2 separate regions of the Homo sapiens genome follow, and region 2 is linked to region 1. Evidence: fine-mapped expression QTL. A gene starts in region 1. The other region holds a variant in brackets. All regions are shown on one strand. Distances are from middle to middle. Region 1 holds the start of MIOS (meiosis regulator for oocyte development). Region 2 overlaps MIOS (meiosis regulator for oocyte development).

What was found.
Region 2: its variant is fine-mapped to the expression of MIOS in CD4 T cells (Kasela 2017, PIP 0.95).

The regions. Positions count from the first base shown.
Region 1 is chr7:7,561,893-7,571,587 of GRCh38, reverse strand. MIOS (meiosis regulator for oocyte development) reads right to left here and starts at 4,704. Exons shown (of 13, transcript NM_019005.4): 1 at 4,516-4,704; 2 at 3,900-3,981; 3 at 3,465-3,562. MIOS-DT (MIOS divergent transcript) reads left to right here and starts at 5,523. Exons shown (of 5, transcript NR_110084.1): 1 at 5,523-5,674; 2 at 7,264-7,351. RefSeq lists enhancers at 2,277-2,336, 3,914-3,983 and a silencer at 4,234-4,883.
Region 2 is chr7:7,603,423-7,613,117 of GRCh38, reverse strand. MIOS (meiosis regulator for oocyte development) reads right to left here. Exons shown (of 13, transcript NM_019005.4): 12 at 7,047-7,176; 13 at 4,186-6,122. The coding sequence ends at 6,026. Among named protein-coding and RNA genes, the nearest start is that of UMAD1, 32 kb to the left of the region's middle. The variant T/C (reference allele first, on the strand shown) is at 6,062.

The sequences.
Region 1 (9,695 bases):
AAACTGACTCATTTTTAAAATCTGAAAATTGACTTTAATCTCTTCATAAGGTCCATGAATCATGGTATGCTATGCTAAATATATTTTTAACCTACACTGAAATATATAACTATTAAAAAGGCTTGATTGTGTTTTATCTACAAAGCATCCTGTTTATGACCAGTGGTACACACATACCACACTCTGAGAAAGTGGATTAAGTGATCATTAGAGGCTCTTTCAGTTTTCGCTTCTACAAACTTTGAATAAGTGTTAAAGTAGAATTTTTGAAAAAAATAAATATTCTAGCAGTAGAAGCACACGAACTAAATATAGCTATAGTTAAAAATGGTGTTTCAATAATTAAGGTTGCCTACAAAAATTTAAATGCCTGTTTCTAACAGAGGCTGGCAAAAGGTAATAGATTCAAAAAGAATGAACATACTTAAAATCTTCATTGCAATTGGCATCTGTACAACTCTGTTGTCAGTTCTCATAAGGTAAAGCTATGGTTCACTTACCTCTCTATCCTTAGTGCCATATATAGAGCCTGGCATAGACTCCTAATAAGGATACACTAAATAGTTCAACTCAAACATAATTGCTTTTCTTTTTGATCTTGCAAAAGTTTCAGTTGGGAATTACCAGTCTAAAACTTCATAGACTCATATAATTTAGACCAGGGGTCCCCAACTCCCAGGGCCGCAGACCAGTTCTGCTCCCTGGCCTGTTAGGAACCAGGCCACACAGCAGGAGGTGAGCAGCAGGCAAGGGAGCTAAGCGTCATCTGTTATTTACAGCCACTCATCTCACACACTGCTGCCTGAGCTCCGCCTCCTGTCAGATCAATAGCAGCATTAGTTTCTCACAGGAGTGCAAACCCTATTGTGAACTGTGCAAGAGAGGGATCTAGGTTGTGCATTCCTTGTGAGAATCTAATGCCTGATGATCTGTCACTGTCTCCTATCACTCCCATATGGGACCATCTAGTTGCAGGAAAACAAGCTCAGGGCTCCCACTGATTCTACATTACGGTGAGTTGTATAATTATTTCATTGTATAGTACAATGTAAATAGAAATAAAGTGCACAATAAATGTAATGCGCTTGAATCATCCTGAAACCACACCCCCACCCCTCATCCGTGAGAAAATTGTCTTCCATGAAACTGGTCCCTGGTGCCAAAAAGGTTGGGGACCACTGATTTAGGAATTCTTATACTGGTTTTATTTCCTTCTTTAGCATTTCTCAAGCCCAAGATCAATCATTTCAATATTCTTACTAGCACCCTCAATGTCTTCATTTCCTTGCCACTTTGGGTTTGCCTTTCCCCAGTCCTAGATCAACCCAATTATTTATCATCTTGTCTCCTCACTCAGGCTTCCAAGTGCTACCACACAGAGGATAGTCTCAAGCCTCTGAAAACTGATTTCAGTAAATTAAGGTATACAACATATCTGGTGTGTGGTGCTGGAGGCTTTTCTTTTATTCATCTTTCCCCTGGTCCTTCAGAAATTTTGCTTTATAGAATACCAGAGTAAAAATCTTTCTACAACACAACCTTGACCAGGCTATCCTTCCTTGCTTAAAACCCTCTAATGGTCTTCAGCTGCTCTTAGTATAACCTACAAAACCCTAAATGCTTTTGGTCTCTGCCTACTGCACCGGCCTTGTGGCACAACATTCTTGCTGTCCTTTTACACTGTCCTTTCCACTTCCTAGAGTATATACCCTCCTCCCTCATCACCATACCTTTGCAAATGATGTTTCCTCTGGTTAGAGCACAGTTCCCTGTCTTCTGGGCCAAGTTAATACCTGCTCAACCTTGACGTCAACCACCCTCCATCCCCTCCCTAGTCGAGGTCTGGTTACTCAGACATACACTGTCATTAAACAGTATTCTTTCCCTTTAATCATCCATCTCTGTCTCTTCTACTGGATTATACACTCCATGAGAGCAGGTGAAGTATTTTTGGTGTTCCATTGTACCTCTAGTCCCCAGTACAGTGCTAGGCACTTAGTAGGAAGTTAATAAACATTTGTTAAATAAATGCATGTGCTGAATGATCCCTCTGACACTTCTCACAACTGCTATCTCCAAGTTTTACCTATTTCCTCATGCTTCCACTTCTACGCTCCCTAGGAGAGGCTGGCTCCGGCCAAGATTTAAATGTCTGCTATTATACTTTCATTTATTCTGTGACTATTGATTGGGCACCTTCTATGTTCTAGGCATGGTTATGAAGCTGGGAACACAGCAGCAAACATGAGCCGATGAAGTCTCTGGTCTAAAAAAAACCTGCACTGTAGTGATAAAATTAAGTCCAACCTTAAAAAGAGTTTCAAAATTTAAGAATGAGGAGGAAGAGGGGCACCTCACGTAACAGGAAGCAGCTACGACAGCAAAGAGGAACAGATACTGCCAAATAAGGGTTCATACTCATACCCCCACAAAGGAAATCTCTTAATTGGAGACATCATGAGATCTGGGCCATTTTCCCATCTCATTGAAAAATCAATGTTTAAATAAACACACTTTTTATCTAGGCTTTCATTCCACAACCCGACTCTTTATACCAATGGTCTATGGTAAGCAATCTTGATGCCACAAAGAAAAATCCATCTTACAAAACATAAAATACGAGTTTTAGCATAAAATTTAAAACTTTGATTTACATGACTCTCAACGGAGAATATCAGCATTTCTTCCCATGTTATGCACCTAAAATACTTCTATTGCCATCCACAAAATCTGATGACAGTAATTCATACAGAATCAAAACTTGAGAGAAAAAGACTAGCTAAATCTTCTAATTTCACAAAGGAGTAAAGTGAAGACCAGATGTTTGGGTGGTTATCCAAGGTCTCTCAACTTCCGTCCTAGATTACTGCAAAGAAAAGGATCAGCTACACGATATGCAGGACGTGGTGCAAAATAACAATGCAGGGCCCCTCATTTAAAAATTATTTACAATGTCCAGACAGTGACAGCAGACTGGCCATTAAACTAAGTGCTAGCCATTCTAAATGCTGGGCTCTGTGCTACTGCACAGGTTGCACATCATAAGAGTAGCCCTGTATAGAGAGGTGCATCTATGTCCACCCTTTTAAGAAGTGTATTTTTTTTCACCATGTAATATACAGGATAAACAGTTCCTTGCTCATGAACATACATCACCAAGAATCTGGTGTAAAGAAAACAATCTAGAGTCAGAAATCCTACAGCCACTCCCCAGCTCAGATCCTAACAAATCTTGTAATACTCCAAAACCATAAAACCGAGATAAAATCTATCCCATTTCCATCTCACAAAGCTGTGACAATCAACTGAAATGAGCTCTTCACATCACACAGATGTTAGTATTACTACCATTCCCTTAATCAGCCCTGAAAGTTAATGTTTTTTCCAAATTTTGGAGACATTAAAAAATTAGGTGTAGAAGGGGTGCGGTCTGCAATAATTACAGCTTGTATTTATATCCTCACCTTTCAAGTTTAACAAGTCTCACTTCCCATCAGTGATTTCTCAGCAAAGGAAAGCCATGCTGATTCTGTGTTCATTCACCAGAATATTTGCAACAGCACTGTCCAAAAGAAATACAGTGTGAGCCATATGATTTAAAAATTTCTAGTAGCCACATTTAAAAAGTAAAATTAGGTGGAATGAAATTTAAAAACACATTTTATTTAGCCAACATATCAACAGCATTATCCTTTCAATATGTAATCAATGCAAAAATTATTGAGGATTTTTACGTTTTTTTGGCACCAACTCTGGGAAATCCGATGTGTATTTTACACTTATAGCACATCTCAATCCCATGTGGCTACTGGACAGTGAAGTCCAACACATTAAAATACTACTCAGTGTACAAAGGATCCAACCACATGCTTTTTGATGTTGTCTTTTACTTTTCTTACCGTGGCAAATTACGAGAGCGGTTTCAAGAAATTTCCACCATCAGCATCTTCGAGGAGATGCACTGCACATATCCAAATTTCCCTTAAAATATACAAAAGGCCTGCAGTCATTTGCTAACCTATTCAGCAAAGTCCACAACATGTGTGAGGTTTCATTCATCCTCTTAATTTTCATTACTCATATGAGAAGAGAACAGAGCTCACCGGGAGACAGGCCGTTTAAGAAGTATAGTATTTAAGAGGGTACAACGGGAACAGGGCACGTTGCTATTCTAGGTAAAGCAGGAATCTGAGTCCGACTCTCCCGCTCCAGGCACCTGGCTGAGCCTCCCGGGAAAGGCTGGGACGCCGCTCCCCACAAGCCCGCCGCGGCGAAGGCTGTAGCGTGTTCCCTGCGCCCCGAGGAGGTCTCCGCAGGTCCCACGGCCGCCCGCAGCCCCCGGTGGCTCCCGCTGAGGCCCGGCCAGGCGGCCGGCCGCCCGGCGCGATTACCCTACAGCGCGGAACGCGCTCCCCGCCGAGACGCCCGGGCCTTTCAACTAGGCTATCTCCGGCCCCTCGCTGCGGCCGCGGCGCTCCCGAGAGTCGAGACGCGAACCGGGTCGCGCTCACTGACCTGAGGTGGCAGCGCGGCCGCCGCACAGCCGCTTCCGGCCGGGACACCGCCCCGCCCGCCGCAGGAGCCCGGACGCGGGCAAGATGGCGGCCGCGGCCGTGCGGCCCGTGACCTGGACCACTGGGCTGGGACCCACGACCCCACCACCACGCCTGGAGGACGCGCAGCGGCGCCTCGGCCTTGGAAGGGGAGTTTCCCAGCGCGAGCCCCGCCCTTCCCCGCCCGGGAGGCGCCTCGGGGCGGGGTCACTGGCCGGGAGGCCCCGCCTTCCGCCCGAAAGCGCCGGTGCACCCCGCAGGCCCTGCCCGTGGGTCCACAGGCCGGATCCCCGGGTTCCTAGGCTGGGACTGCTTCTCAGAACCACTCTGTCGTTTTTAAGCAGGGTCACACACTCTAGCTCACTGGGTCCATTTTAATTTCTATTAAACATTTTTTTTTTTTTGCAAATGATGTAGTAGGAGATCCAAGGTGTTTGGTTAATGATTTATTCACTCATTAGTCATTCCACAAACTTGTCTTGAGCACCTGTTATGTACCCAGCACTGTGCTGGAATGCTGAGGAGACAGGAGTGAAGTAAAAAGACATGGTTCCGGCAGGAAACAGGCAAGGAGAGCCTTGACTTGGTAGGGCTAACACAGTGCTACACAGGAGGGACGCCCGCTCGGTGTCGGGGGTCAGCAAAGCTTCCTTAAGGACCACTAGGTTGAGACAAGAAGGATGAGTATGGGATTAGCCAGGAAAGGGAAAAGGGCAGTGGGAACTGGAAGAGAAGAGCCTTCTAGGACTGGGAAAGAGCAAGTGCCGGGTCAGGAGAGAGGACATAGCAGTGAGGAGGCAGTAGGTATGGATGAATGAGCAGAGGAAGTGGGGAGAGATTAAGGTGCTTTCAGAAACGGGTTGGAAACCAGTTTAGTGAGTTTGGATGGCATTTACCTAAAGGCAATGTTAGAGTCATCGAAAGTTTTTAATCAGGCAAGTGGTATGATCAGTTTTTTGTTTTGTTTTGTTTTTTTTGAGACGGAGTCTGGCTATATCGCCAGGCTGGAATGCAATGGCGCGATCTCTCCTCACTGCAACCTCCGCCTCCCGGGTTCAAGCGATTCTCCTGCCTCAGCACCTCGAGTAGCTGGGACTACAGGCGCGCGCCACCACGCCCAGGTAATTTTTTGTATTTTTAGGAGAGATGGGGTTTCACCATGTTGGCGAGGGTGGTCTCATTTCTTGACCTCGTGATGCGCCCACCTCGGTCTCCCAAAGTGCTGGGATTACAGGCATGAGCCACTGTGCCCGGCCAGTATGATCAGTTTTTGCGCAGAGAGCTGGAGGGATAGAGTATCAGAATGAGGGATGATAGAAACGCAGGTTACCAGTGGCACGGAGAGTGGGCATGGAGAGAAGTGGGGGCCCTGGGGAATACTTAGAAGGCGGGATGAACAGAGCTTGGTGACTGACCAAGTGAATGACGGTGAAAGAGGATTCCAAGTTTTTTGTTCCCAAAACTGAGTGAATGGTGCTGCCTCAGGTGTCACGAGTCTGACCTCGAGGCAGTCTTCAGATGTCTGACAGTCTTTGCTTGTCTGTTCATGATTAAAAGTGGGTGGTCTTGGGCTTGTGGTGGTGATGGCTGTAAACAGCATAATGAGCTTAGTCCTGATGATCTTGGTGGCAGATGGTTTTGATAAGATGATGAGTTTGGGGAAAGTATTGCCTTTCCAATCCTGCCATTAGAAGAATGTAGGCTGAAGAAAGTGCTGTATTACTGAGAGGAGACATGACAGTATTCATCACTTCAAACACTATCTTGCCAATCTTCTCAGTGGTTTTGACCCTGGCCTCAAACCCCCACACAAAACCTCAGATCAATACAAATCTCTTCCTTATCCACTCCTACTATACATAGTTGAGGACAACTTTTCTGCTTGCACTCAGGAGATGACACTGCCTCCTACTTCAGAAAAGAAAATTAAAACTATTAGCTAGAATTTGCACAACCTCCCACTGCTTCCTCCTTCCCTCCTCCAACATCTTGATTCACTACCATTCTTACCTTCTTTTAGGTGACAAAGAGTAAGAGGAGGAACCCCATGTATATCTCCTCTTCTGGGACCTTGCACCATCAATTACTTCACTTCCATGTATCTTTGCCTCTCCATTTCTACTGGTTCTTTACTTTCAACACATACTCAAGTTATTCCCATTTTCTCTTCAAAGGAGAGGATCATATTTGCTCTCTGTAATTCCACTTCCCCCTCTCTCCCTTGAATTCACTCCATTCAGTCCTTCATGCCCACCATGCCACGAAACTGCCACTTGTCAAGGTCACCTGTGAGCTCCATGCTGCCAGTTTCAATGGCCAAAGCTTCACTCTTGCAACTTCTGTTGTTCTTGACTACTTCCTCTCTTGACATGTCTCATTCACTTTGTTGCATATCATCACTTTCTTCTGGTTTGTCTTTTATCCCTGTGACTTCACTGTTCCTTAAACATGACAAGCATGCTCTTGCCTCAGGGCTTCTTCACTAGCTATTCCCTCTGTCTGGAATGCAGAAATCTACATGACTCATACTCTCCCTTTACTCAAGACTGCTCACTTGTCACTGACTACCTATAAATTAGCTCCTTTGTTGTTGTCTTTATGACACCACAACTTCACATACGTCGCCATCTCTTTACTTTCCTATAGTTATCTTCTAGACTGTGTCTTCTCCTTATCTCCAGTTTTCATTCTGTATTTTTTTTCTTTTTAGTAAGAGGAAATAACTCTACATTCAAATTTGAGCAGGGCACTTGGTGACCTACTTAGACATGACATTCCTTGGCCTCCCTTTCAGCAAGGTAAGGCTATATCAAAAAGTTATGTCCTGTAAGATGTGAGTAGAACTGGATCATGTCCCTTAAAAGGAAAGCTGCTTGCTATACACTTTCTCTTCCCTCTTCTTGCTGTCTGGCAAATGGCAAAAAGAAATACAGACTGGAAATGGAAGCCATGTATTAAGGAAGGCAAAGCTGTTCTCACTAGCCTAAGTCCCAAACTAATCTCAGGGAGCTGGGGCACCTCCTCCCTTGGATCAACCACAGACTTCTGGACCATTATGCAAGAGAAAATAAACTTTGTTCTTTAAAAAATCATTGTTTGTTTGGACCTGGTAGAGCAGCTTAGCCAATTCCCTAATTAAAACAGAGGGGCTCTGTCTATTTTATTCTCTGCTTAATCACCAGGATGTAAAACAGTACCTAATAAATGTGGTAAATAAAAATGTATTGAATAAATCCTAAAACAACGTATTTATTCTACATCCTCCTCCAGCTAATGTCCCTTTTTCAACTTTCTTTTCCACTCAAGCTTTGTGAAAGTATATATTTTTTCATATTGCCACTAATTCTTCTAAAGCCCCTCACAGGAATAAGTGACACCTTTCTCAGTCTTTTTGGAAACTGATTCCCCTTCTCTACTAAACCAAGATCCTTGCAGGTAGCAATCTTTTAGCATGGAACTTTGGATTTCCCTTAGCACCTGTTGCATAGGTATCCAAAAAATATTTACTGAGTTGAGTGAGTGCTTTGTATCTTTGGAAACAGTAAACCGTAGCAGAGAACTTGACAGACTGGTCTGAGATTACACTAGTTGCCTTTACTAAACATGCGTTTTACAATAGATCCTAGGGCCACTGTAGTTCAGTCTCGGTATTTTGTTTGTTTTTAATTTAAGCTTTTGTATTCCTAATAGGATTTTTTTATTGTTGTTTTTTTGAGATGGAGCCTCGCTCTGTCGCCCAGGCTGGAGTGCTGTGGTGTAGTCTCAACTCACCACAATCACTGCCTCCCAGGTTCAAGTGATTCTCCTGCCTCAGCCTCCTGAGTAGCTGGGATTACAGGCATGCGCCACCATGCCTGGCTAATTTTTATATTTTCAGTAGAGATGGGATTTCACCATGTTGGCCAGGCTGGTCTCGAACTCCTGACCTCAAGTGATCTGCCTGCCTCATCCTCCCAAAGTGCTGGGATTACAGGCATGAGCCACTGCGCTTGGCCAGGATGTTCTTTTTAAGATTCTTCATTTATGTTGTGGTGATCCAGGAGAGGATTTTTGTTGTGGTTTTAAAACCAGAAGGATTGCAGTTGAAGGACAGCGAATTTCTTTCTTATTTACAGCTGCTCCTGGCAGCAATTCAGTTACTACAGTACTGGAACATTTTGTGAAGTCTGTGACTGGCTAATCCCAATTCTTTTTATTTCCACATGCACAAAATCAGTCTGTACCTGAGAGCAAGTTTTGCTTTTAGATGGAGGCTGGGCAGGTATCAAGCTGAAATGAAGCCCTGTAAACATGTGCCATGGCTTAGGTAATCTTTTCACATAGGTTGAAGATCAGAAGATCAGAGATATCTTAAAATAATGGCCTTCAAAAACTTTTCTAGAATATCCCCAAATAAATTTTTTAAATCAATGCATTTCTTCATGCATTTTGGGATTACACCTAACATTGTCAAAACAAATTTACATAGTTGTCAAGTATATGATTTGTAATATTTTTTAAATCTTTAAATTATAAGCAAAACAGGGCTGGGTGTGGTGGCTCATGCTTGTAATCCCAGCACTTTGAGAGGCCGAGGCAGGTGGATCACCTGAGGTCAGAAGTTCAGGACTAGTCTGGCCAACATGGTGAAAGCCCGTCTCTATTAAAAATACAAAAATTAGCAAGGCATGGTGGTGCGCACTTGTAGTCCCAGCTACTTGGGAGGCTGAGGCAGGAAAATCGCTTGAATGCGGGAGGCAGAGGTTGCAGTGAGTCAAGACTATGCCACTGCACTCCAGCCTGGGCAACAGAGTGAGACTCTGTCTCCAAAAAAAAAAAAAAAAAAAAAAGTTTTTGGAAAAATTTGACAAAGCATATCATGTGAATTCAGATTTACCTCAATACCAAGAATTATGTTTAAATAGGACAAGGAAGATTTTTTAAGTTTTTATTTTAAGTTTAGGGGTACATGTGCAGGTTTGCCATATAGGTAAACTCATGTTATGGGGGTTTGTTATATAGATTATTTAGTTACTCAGGGATTAAGCCTAGTACCTGTTATTTTCCCTGATTCTCTCCCTTGTCTCACCCTCCACCCCTGGTAGGCCCTAATGTCTGTTGTTTCCCTCTATGCGTCCATGTGTTCTCATCTTTTAGCTTCCG
Region 2 (9,695 bases), 42 kb before region 1:
ATATGCTTTTCATAAATTGAATGATGAAAGTCTCTACTGAATTATTATTGCTGCTGTTTCTAACATTACATAAATTATCCTTTAATCCTAAAGCTGCCTTTTTAGCAAAGCATTTTAAAACACTGTGCCATTAGTAGATGAGTAAGAAAATTACATTTTTGAAAAACGTTATGGAAATCTCTATTTCCTCAAATTATTTTTAATTGGAAAATAATTTTTAAAGTCCAAAATGAGAAAATCAAATAGACATTTTCTGGCTTGCAGAGATGCTAAAATGATACTCATTTTATGCAAATGCTATAGCAGTTGTAAATATTAAGCTTAATAGATTTGAATCTGCTGAAAACTATGCCTGGATCTGCCTCTTCCATTAGACATACAACTCCTCCAAGGCAACTATGGTGCCATCAATCCTTTAACATCAGAACCTTTAACACTGTCCAGCACACGTAGGTATGGTTCTGTGTTTTGGTGAAGCAAAGACACACAGGCATGTTCAGAATTCATCACTTAAACCTAAATAACCTGCTATTATTGGAAATGAATTGAGCAAAGTGCATGCCAGATTAGACTGGACAATAATCACATAAATTCAGTACATAGAGGAGGACAGCTTTCCCACCACAGACCCAGAGCCAAAAAAGAGGAGTCAGGAAATCTCATGACGAAGATATAGGAGAAAAAATATTGAAATGAAGTTATTAATCATGTACCACTAAGCTCAGGGAAATCAGAATTATTTTACATATTCATTTCCCAATACGCTAAGTGGAGAACATAATGCACTACTTCCAAATGTAATGAAGAATTGAGAGGACTATATCTTGTTATTCTTGTATATTACTAGTGTAGAGTAAGAAATCTAGAAAATGCTTTCTGAACAATTAGATCTCAATCCAAATTTTCATAACATCTTGTAGCCTGTTTTTTCACCGCATAGAATAAATCCTAACATATGATTGTTTCACTGTGTTTAATAACAAGATACAAGGTCATGGATAACTTTTCTAAAAGCCAGTATATACATATATGGTGTGTATGTGTGTGTGTGCGCGAGAGACAGAGTGAGACAGAGAGATGCATGTACATTTATATATTCATTATTATTGGGAAAAATGAAAGATAGATATGAAGAAAATGTTACTCAAAATTCCACTCTTTAAAGATGGCCACTGTTAAAGTTTCTGTATTAACCATATCCCAAACAAATATATTTATATGCTAGATATACTATCCTAAAACTTCCCTTTCACTTACCAATATATTAAGAAACCTTTGTCAATGAAAATATCTATACTAATTGAATCATTTCTTAGTAACCCACTGTATGTATATACAATAATTTATTCTTTTCTATTATTGGACATTTAGGTTTCCAAGTTTTTATTATAAACAATACTGTGTAGAACCGTATCATAAAAATATACATCTTTGTGCACTTATGCAATCAATCCCTCAGAAAATATTCCCAGCATACTATGTCAAAGGGTATGAAACTCTTTACGGCTTCTGATTAATACAGTTTACCTGTCCTCAAGACTTAAACTCTCATAAGCTGTTATCTCAGAATGTTTCCTTCCCACATCCATGAAAATGCCTATTATTTTAAATCTATGCAGTCAGGCGAACAGTATTCTACTTTTTAATCAGCATGTTACTGATTTAGCATTTATTTGTCAGCAGTTCTATTTTGCTTGCACAAGTCTTTGATTGATATTATCTACTGATTGTTTTTTCCTCGGCTTTGAAAATGTCCTTTCTGAATTAAGGCAATTTGTCATAAATGTTGTAGTTTATCAATTTGTTTGCCTTGTAACTATGATTTTTGCCATATCAAATTTTGATGACTTGGAAAAGAAGCAAAGGTGTGCCTTTCGCTTTCTTCTTTTTCATTGCCATGTGCAGAACCAGTGACAACAGCATCCACTTCTTATTCCTGTCTATAGTGAGAAGGATTCTAGTATTTCTCTAATAGGCATCATGATGTATGAGACAGTAAAACAGGAGGGGAGAAAATGGAGAGAAAACATTTCCTTTGCATAAAAACTGACCTCAAAAACAAATTAAGAGATCAATTTTTGAATTTTATCAAGCTCTTTGTGGTTCTTCTCTTTTGGTATATTAATACTAAATATAATTAAAATATTACCCAGTACTTAATTCTTGGAATAAACCCTTCTTTGTCGTAGTGAATCATTCTCTTACGTATATAACCTACAAAGTAGTACACAGAAGCAGAAAACAGAAATTAAAAGGGCAGATTAGCAGGTCAAGACTACTGGAATCTAAGTCTTGGCTGTATTTGCTACTCATGTAACCTAGGACAAGTGACCTGATGTCCCTATGCCTGAGTTGCCTCCTTTACAGAACGGGGACAATAATGGCATAACTGCCTCATAGGTTTATGGCGAAAACAGGATAATGCGCTTGGCACCTGGCACATAAAAGGCATTAACAGTAATTTATATACTGCTGCATTTGATGCTAATTTTACTTGTGACTTTATCATGTTAAAGTTGTGTTAATTTGATATCTGGGTTGTTAGCTTTTAAAAACCTTGGGAAGCTTTCCTTCTGTCGCTGTACTCTGGGAAAAGTAGTATTTTATAAAAATTAATATATTTGTAAAGTGCTACTTGTTATAATCAACAAAGTAACCTACAACATTTTCAGGTAGGAGAGAAAACTGGCAGATGATGTAATGGAAGGAGTGAGTAGTGGACAGGGGAGCTGCTATCTAACAAGGCCTGTTTCTGTCATTGTGATGTGGGTCACTAGACTTGATACAAGATATTGACCCAAATATGTGCCTCCTACCTCTCTGATGCCTGTCTGAGCAGATGTCAGAAATTGTGCCCACTAGCTTTAATTACGGCTATTCCGGGACAGCAAGTCTCACAGTATACTTTTGAAATTATCACTACCACCCCAACATTATAATTTAAATGAACATCAAGTGTAATAGAATGGCAGAAAAAGAAAAAGTACACAGAATAATCCTGGATACTTTCTCCAAGTATCCAGATTAGGGAGTTCAATTTAAACGTAGTTAAATTAAGAGTTTAGACATAAAACTTAAAGTTTTCAATAGTCAGTTGTTAAATTTGCCATAATTTTTTCCTCTGGGTTCATTTTTATATCACATTTAACTCTTAGGAGGTCATTTGGAGGATTTTTGCATGCAGCAAAAACAGTAATACTATAAATTTATCCAAATTATGGCATTTTTCTTTTGAGACAGGACTTAGCTACTTTTGTTTACCCTATATTTGGAGTATAACTATTATTGGGAATTTTCACTCTTTTTAAGAAAATCTATTTCAGCTAACTCACACCAAGGAAATTTTCATTCTTGAGACAAATGTAGATTCGTTAAAATTATAAGTATTCATTATACTTATAATTTTAACTATAATTAAAATTATACTATAAGTATTCATTGAAAAAGTACTGATACATGAGCAATCTATGAAAATGAAGGTAACAATGACTGCTAATCACTACCATTTATAGAGCACCATGTGACAGGGATATGGCACTTCATGTTTATTGCATCACCTAATACTCCCACACTCTGAGGTAGGTATTTCTGTATCTTTCTTTTAACATATGAAGAAACTGAAGCTCAAAAAGGTCAAGTCACTTACCGAAGATCCCGAGGCTAGGATTATAATTTATGTTTCAAAGACCATGCTTTAACTACTTGCAGTCAAATGAATGACTGAAATTGAGTCATCTAATTAAATGAAGAACTACATTCTTTTAAATACTTACTATGTGAAGCATTGACAATGGGAAGCTACTTTTAAAATATACCATTTTAAAGGATAATAACTATTCTGGAAAGTGGGTTGAATTGAAAAACAGAGCCTAAAAGGAATGTTACTTCTAATATTAAGTATGAAGTCTGTCATCAAAAAAAGCACCAATATTACTTCACGTGGATTATTTGTAAAGGAATCATAATTTCTTGATTAGATACAATGACTTCAACCCAGATTTATTCAATCTTTTAAAAATAATAAAAACACTTTTAATAAACACATCTATTGATCATGTTTAGGTAAAGTATCTTGTTGAGTTTATAAACCCAAATACCAGTGACTTAGTGATAAAAATGAGAAAATAATTTGATTGTCCATGCACACTGAAATGCAAAACAGACACCAGAGACATAAACTGCATGTTTGGGCTTCACAGAAAACATTTAAGAGGTTGACACATACATACAATCTTAAAAATGTCACCCTCATATATTAGGATTACAAATAAGCATATTACATAATAGACTTTACATTCATGTTTTATACTGTATTTCCAAAACTTGTAACTATTTGAGATAATTTTACATTTTACTTTAGCTAATGAGAATGAAAATGCATATGAGTCTGACATTACTTAAAGCTGACTTTCATATTTAAGACAGTAAGTTTGAAAGGAACACTTCAAATGAAATATTAAAGGTAAAGGGTATATGTTAATAAAATGAAATCAATTAAGATTTACTCAAATGAAGGCTGGAAAAAGTACCCTTAATAGCAATCTTTAAAAAAAAATTGCAATTACCATGTCTTTCATTTGAAAAGACTGTCATGCAGGTGAGACATTTAGAGTAAATATGTACTACTTCCAATGTTTTCCTAGAAAAGGGTTTTATGTATCAGACACTCAAGGTAAAAAATAAATTTAATCTACTTTTAATATTTAGGTTACACCTCAAACTAATCTGACAAATCTTAGTTTTTATAAGGCAAAACTGCTAATACGAAAGCTCTTAAAATTCTTGTTTTATTTCTCCAAAATCTATAAAATAAGATTTACTCTTTATGAACACAGCTTCAACTACAAAATTCCTAGTTCAGTCCCTCTGCATATGGCAGATGACAGAGAAGCATCTTGTAAATTCTTTGTATTTCTCTTACAACTATCTAGCTATGAAATGAGAAAAAAAAATGTTTTAAATAAAGTACCTGACTTAGCCCCAGTAACACTTACATTTAAAAACTTACATCTAAAATGGTCTCTGAAGTGACCCCATTTCCCCAACACTTCCTAGTCTACCTTGGAAAGAACAAGGTATGGTATTCCAAATCAGGACGGAATTTGACAGCACAGAAACACTGACATAGATTATACTAAATGGCTAGTTACATATAATCTTGCATAGACTTTGTATGCAGTAAAATGTTCTCAGGTGATGAGGATAAGATGACAAATTAATATGGAGAAAAACCTTTGAAGACAAATCAGGACATTGGAAGGCAAAAGGTAGAAAGTGAAAATTTTGTATGTTCACCTGAAATGGTACATGTTTTTCTCTACTGAAGAGAAAAAGTTGTAAGATAGATTCTTCATCTTGGCTTTTCTAGGAAGACGATAATGTTATGCCAAAAGATTGCTTATCTTAAAATCAAAGGAGGGAAAAGGCTCCTTTAAAAAATACATATTTATACATACACACATAAATATACACACACACATAGACACATATATAACAGACAGTAATAAAAAATATTCTCCAGTGTGGGATAGGGGCTCTGCAATTCTAAAAGTAAAAATCTGTAATTTTAAATTAATCTGAAAGAAATCTAAGCACAGCTGAACTTAAAACTATTGTCTGAATCACAGAATTAGTCATTTTATTTTAAAAGTGCACATATTTTATTGAAAGATATCCAGTTTCAGCTTTGAAGATATAGGCTCAAAGTCTGTTCTTGGCTCTTCCAGAAATTCTGCTTCTAGAGTGTTCATAATTTCAACCAAAACTTAGAAAGTTTTTCTAAATCAGACTTTTCAACCTGCTGAACAGAACTCATGTCTATACTTCGATGTTTATTTTGGCAGCATTTGTCTCTGTGAAGCATATCAAAATCACTCAAACATCAAAACTGCTGATCTGATAGAATGATTTATTTTCCCATTACAGGTAAGTCATGAATGGCTTGTTCTGAGGTATGTTTCTGAGCTATGAAGGACACCTACTAGAAAGCTCCACACTTGAAGGGTTCTCTTAAGGTGGTAACATTTTATGGCTGGACAGTCTCTGCAGGTACCAGATTCCC[T/C]GTTGTATCCAACTGCATACATTTACACGTGCATGCCGACACAGGGCACTCTGCATGGTCCCTAAAAAAATAGGTCAAATAACAGTTAAAAATCCAAATTAGACAGACATACATTTATTTATTTATTTATTTTTTAAGAGACAGGGTCTCCCTATATTTCCCAGGCTGTACGCACACTTTTGGGCTCAAGTGATCCTCCTGCCTCAGCCTCCTGAGTAGCTGGGACTACAGGTGTGCACCACTGTGCCCACCTGTTTACTTATATCTATCTATAATGCAACTTTTCAAAATGGCATTTGGAAAAATATAGAAACTAAAACCCAGAGAAAAAAAGCATCAAAAGCATCAAATTATAAACTACTGCCAAGCTGAAGTTTAGGGAGAAGTTAAGAAACACATACCTTTTACTTTCTACATATATGGCAAGATATTTCATTTATAGTTGTGAAGGTGACAGGGATGTGCTCAGAGTTTAAATTAGCTAGTAAGACAAACTGGGTATAAATGCTGTATCAACCAGGAGCACAGGGCCACTGGCACCATTCAAAATGAAATTCAAATATGTCTTGACAGTCTTAATTGCGTGACTACATAAAAAGCTTACTTAGAAGAGAACTGAGGCAGAGGTATGATATGCTCTTTTAACATTTCATTAGTAATTCAATTGCATGGTAAATTACAGAATATTCAGTGTAAAAACTGTAAACATATCCTCTCCCCGAATAAAGTTAAATAATGTTATTCAAACATTTAACTCATACAAAACATTTAAATTAGTTCTTACATAAGTATTACCTTTATAGTTTAAGGTTACATAGGATATCTAATCACGACATGTTCACACCACCTTTGTTAACATGAGTGACAGTAAAAAATAAAATTCATACTTTGGCTAAATGCTAATAGATAAACCCAAACTATTTAGAAGCAATCTGTGTTATCCCCCATAACTCCAAGCCTATCAAAGAAGAAATGTGCTGATTACCTGAACCAACTAAGCATATGTCCAGCATGTCCACCGTGCCTGCAATTATGACACCATGTAAACCAGTTGTTAAATTGGGCTAATTTTTTGTCCTTGCTCAAGTCCACTTTTTCATCTGATTTGGTTCCTCCTATGACAAAATAAAATGATCTTCATTAACTATATCATAATATTTTATTTAAAGTTACTTTCAAAAAGCATTTCTAAAACTGTGTTCCAAATATGAATCACACATCATATTGAAATAGCAATTTTGATGGTAGGTTCTAGTTTAGATGAAGCGAAACTGAATGACAGAAGCTCCCCTACATTTTTAATAGCCAATATAAAAATGGAAAAAAAAATCCAAACCCACTAAGAAACAATCTAAATTTAAAACTTTGGAGAGACCAAATCAGTAGTTTAAAATCTTTCCACAAGGAAAATACCAGGCCCAGTTTACAAGTGAATTTTACTTAACATTCAAGGAACAGGTAGGGCTGGGTGTGATGGCTCATGCCTGTAATCCCAGCACTTTGGGAGGCTGAGGCGGGCAGACCACTTGAGGCTAGGAGTTCACGACCAGTCTGGCCAACATGGTGAAACTCCGTCTCTGTTAAAAATACAAAAATTGGCCGGGGGTGGTGACACATGCCTGTAGTCCCACCTACTTGGGAGGCTGAGGCACAAGAATTGCTTAAATCTGGGGATTGGAGGCTGCAGGGAGCCGAGATTGCACTGCTGCACTCCAGGCTGGGTGATGGAGCAAGACTTTGTCTCAAAAAAAAAAAAAAATCTATCAAGGGACAGGTAATTCTCATCTGTACAAGCCCTTTCAAAGAAGAGAAAAAGCAGAAAGTTTCCCAATGCACTTCATGAGACTTGTGTAACTTAAACAATTGCTTAATTAGACTTAATATTTTTACTTAATTGCTATCTATAAAGACATTATGCATCGATAACTATGTTAAAAATTTTGCTTGGACCATTGCAGGTCACGCTTTCATGACCAAAAGGATAATCTTGCAGTCGGGAATAGTTTTAAAAAATATCCGTTTTTGCTAATGATATGAGGTGAAAGGATGTGTAAGTAATTCAATGATTAAAGATGTAAACACACTAGAATTACTCCTGAAAGGGTCACCAACAATTAATAATGAGAGGGCAAAAAGGAAAGGGGGAAGAGATAAATAAAATATAGATCTGATATGTACACTACTTTACACCTTTGTGTAAAGCTCTCATTAGTGCTTGTCACTTTGTTTTTGTAACTTCTAACATAAACAGATAACAGACTGAATCAGAACAAGGCATATCCTTATATTTTTCTGACGAAACTGGAAGTATTAAGGTCTATCTCACTGCCAAGTATAAAGGCTTAAGATCAAATGACTTCAAATTTTAAAAGATTTATAGTGAATTATGAAGACAAGTGCCACAGAACACTTTAGGCGAAACTAGAGTTTCACTTATGCATTAACTCATAATGTAAGAAGAAAATGAAGGAAACCAGTAGATAATCTAACTTTTAAAAAATGTGTCATTGTCCAGAAGTTAAATTCTGTAAGGGCAGCGATTTTTGTCTTCTTTACTGTAACATTTCTAGCACTTGGAACAATAGGTACCAAATAAACATTTGTTGAATAAATAATATTTATAATGTTTATAATGATGTTAGAACTGTTTCAACAGATTTCTAATCTTCAAAGCACAATTGAGTATAAAAATATCAACTCTCAGTTAAATAAGCTTATAGAAATTCCAGCTATTTGAATCACAAAGCATGATGGATGGATGCAATCTCTGATTGCAGGCAAAGCACCAGGGAGGTTTAGATACTCGAGCCACTAGCCAGCACTTTATTTTTTTTTAAATTTTATTATTATTAAAGTTTTAGGGTACATGTGCACAACGTGCAGGTTTGTTATATATGTATACATGTGCCATGTTGGTGTGCTCCACCCATTAACTCGTCATTTAGCATTAGGTATATCTCCTAATGCTATCCCTCCCCCTTCCCCGCACCCCACAACAGTCCCCGATGTGTAATGTTCCCCTTACTGTGTCCATGTGTTCTCAAATTGTTCAATTCCCGCCTGTCAGTGAGAACATGCGGTGTTTGGATTTTTGTCCTTGCGATAGTTTGCTGAGAATGATGGTTTCCAGCTTCATCCATGTCCCTACAAAGGACATGAACTCATCATTTTTTATGGCTGCATAGTATTCCATGGTGTATATGTGCCACATTTTCTTAATCCAGTCTATCATTGTTGGATATCTGGCTTGGTTCCAAGTCTTTGCTATTGTGAATAGTGCTGCAATAAACATACGTGTGCATGTGTCTTTATAGCAGCATGATTTATAATCCTTTGGGTATATACCCAGTAATAGAATGGCTGGGTCAAATGGTATTTCTAGTTCTAGATCCCTGAGGAATCGCCACACTGACTTCCACAATGGTTGAACTAGTTTACAGTCCCACCAACAGTGTAAAAGTGTTCCTATTTCTTCACATCCTCTCCAACACCTGTTGTTTCCTGACTTTTTAATGATCGCCATTCTAACTGGTGTGAGATGGTATCTCATTGTGGTTTTGATTTGCATTTCTCTGATGGCCAGTGATGATGAACATTTTTTCACGTGTTTTTTGGCTGCATAAATGTCTTCTTT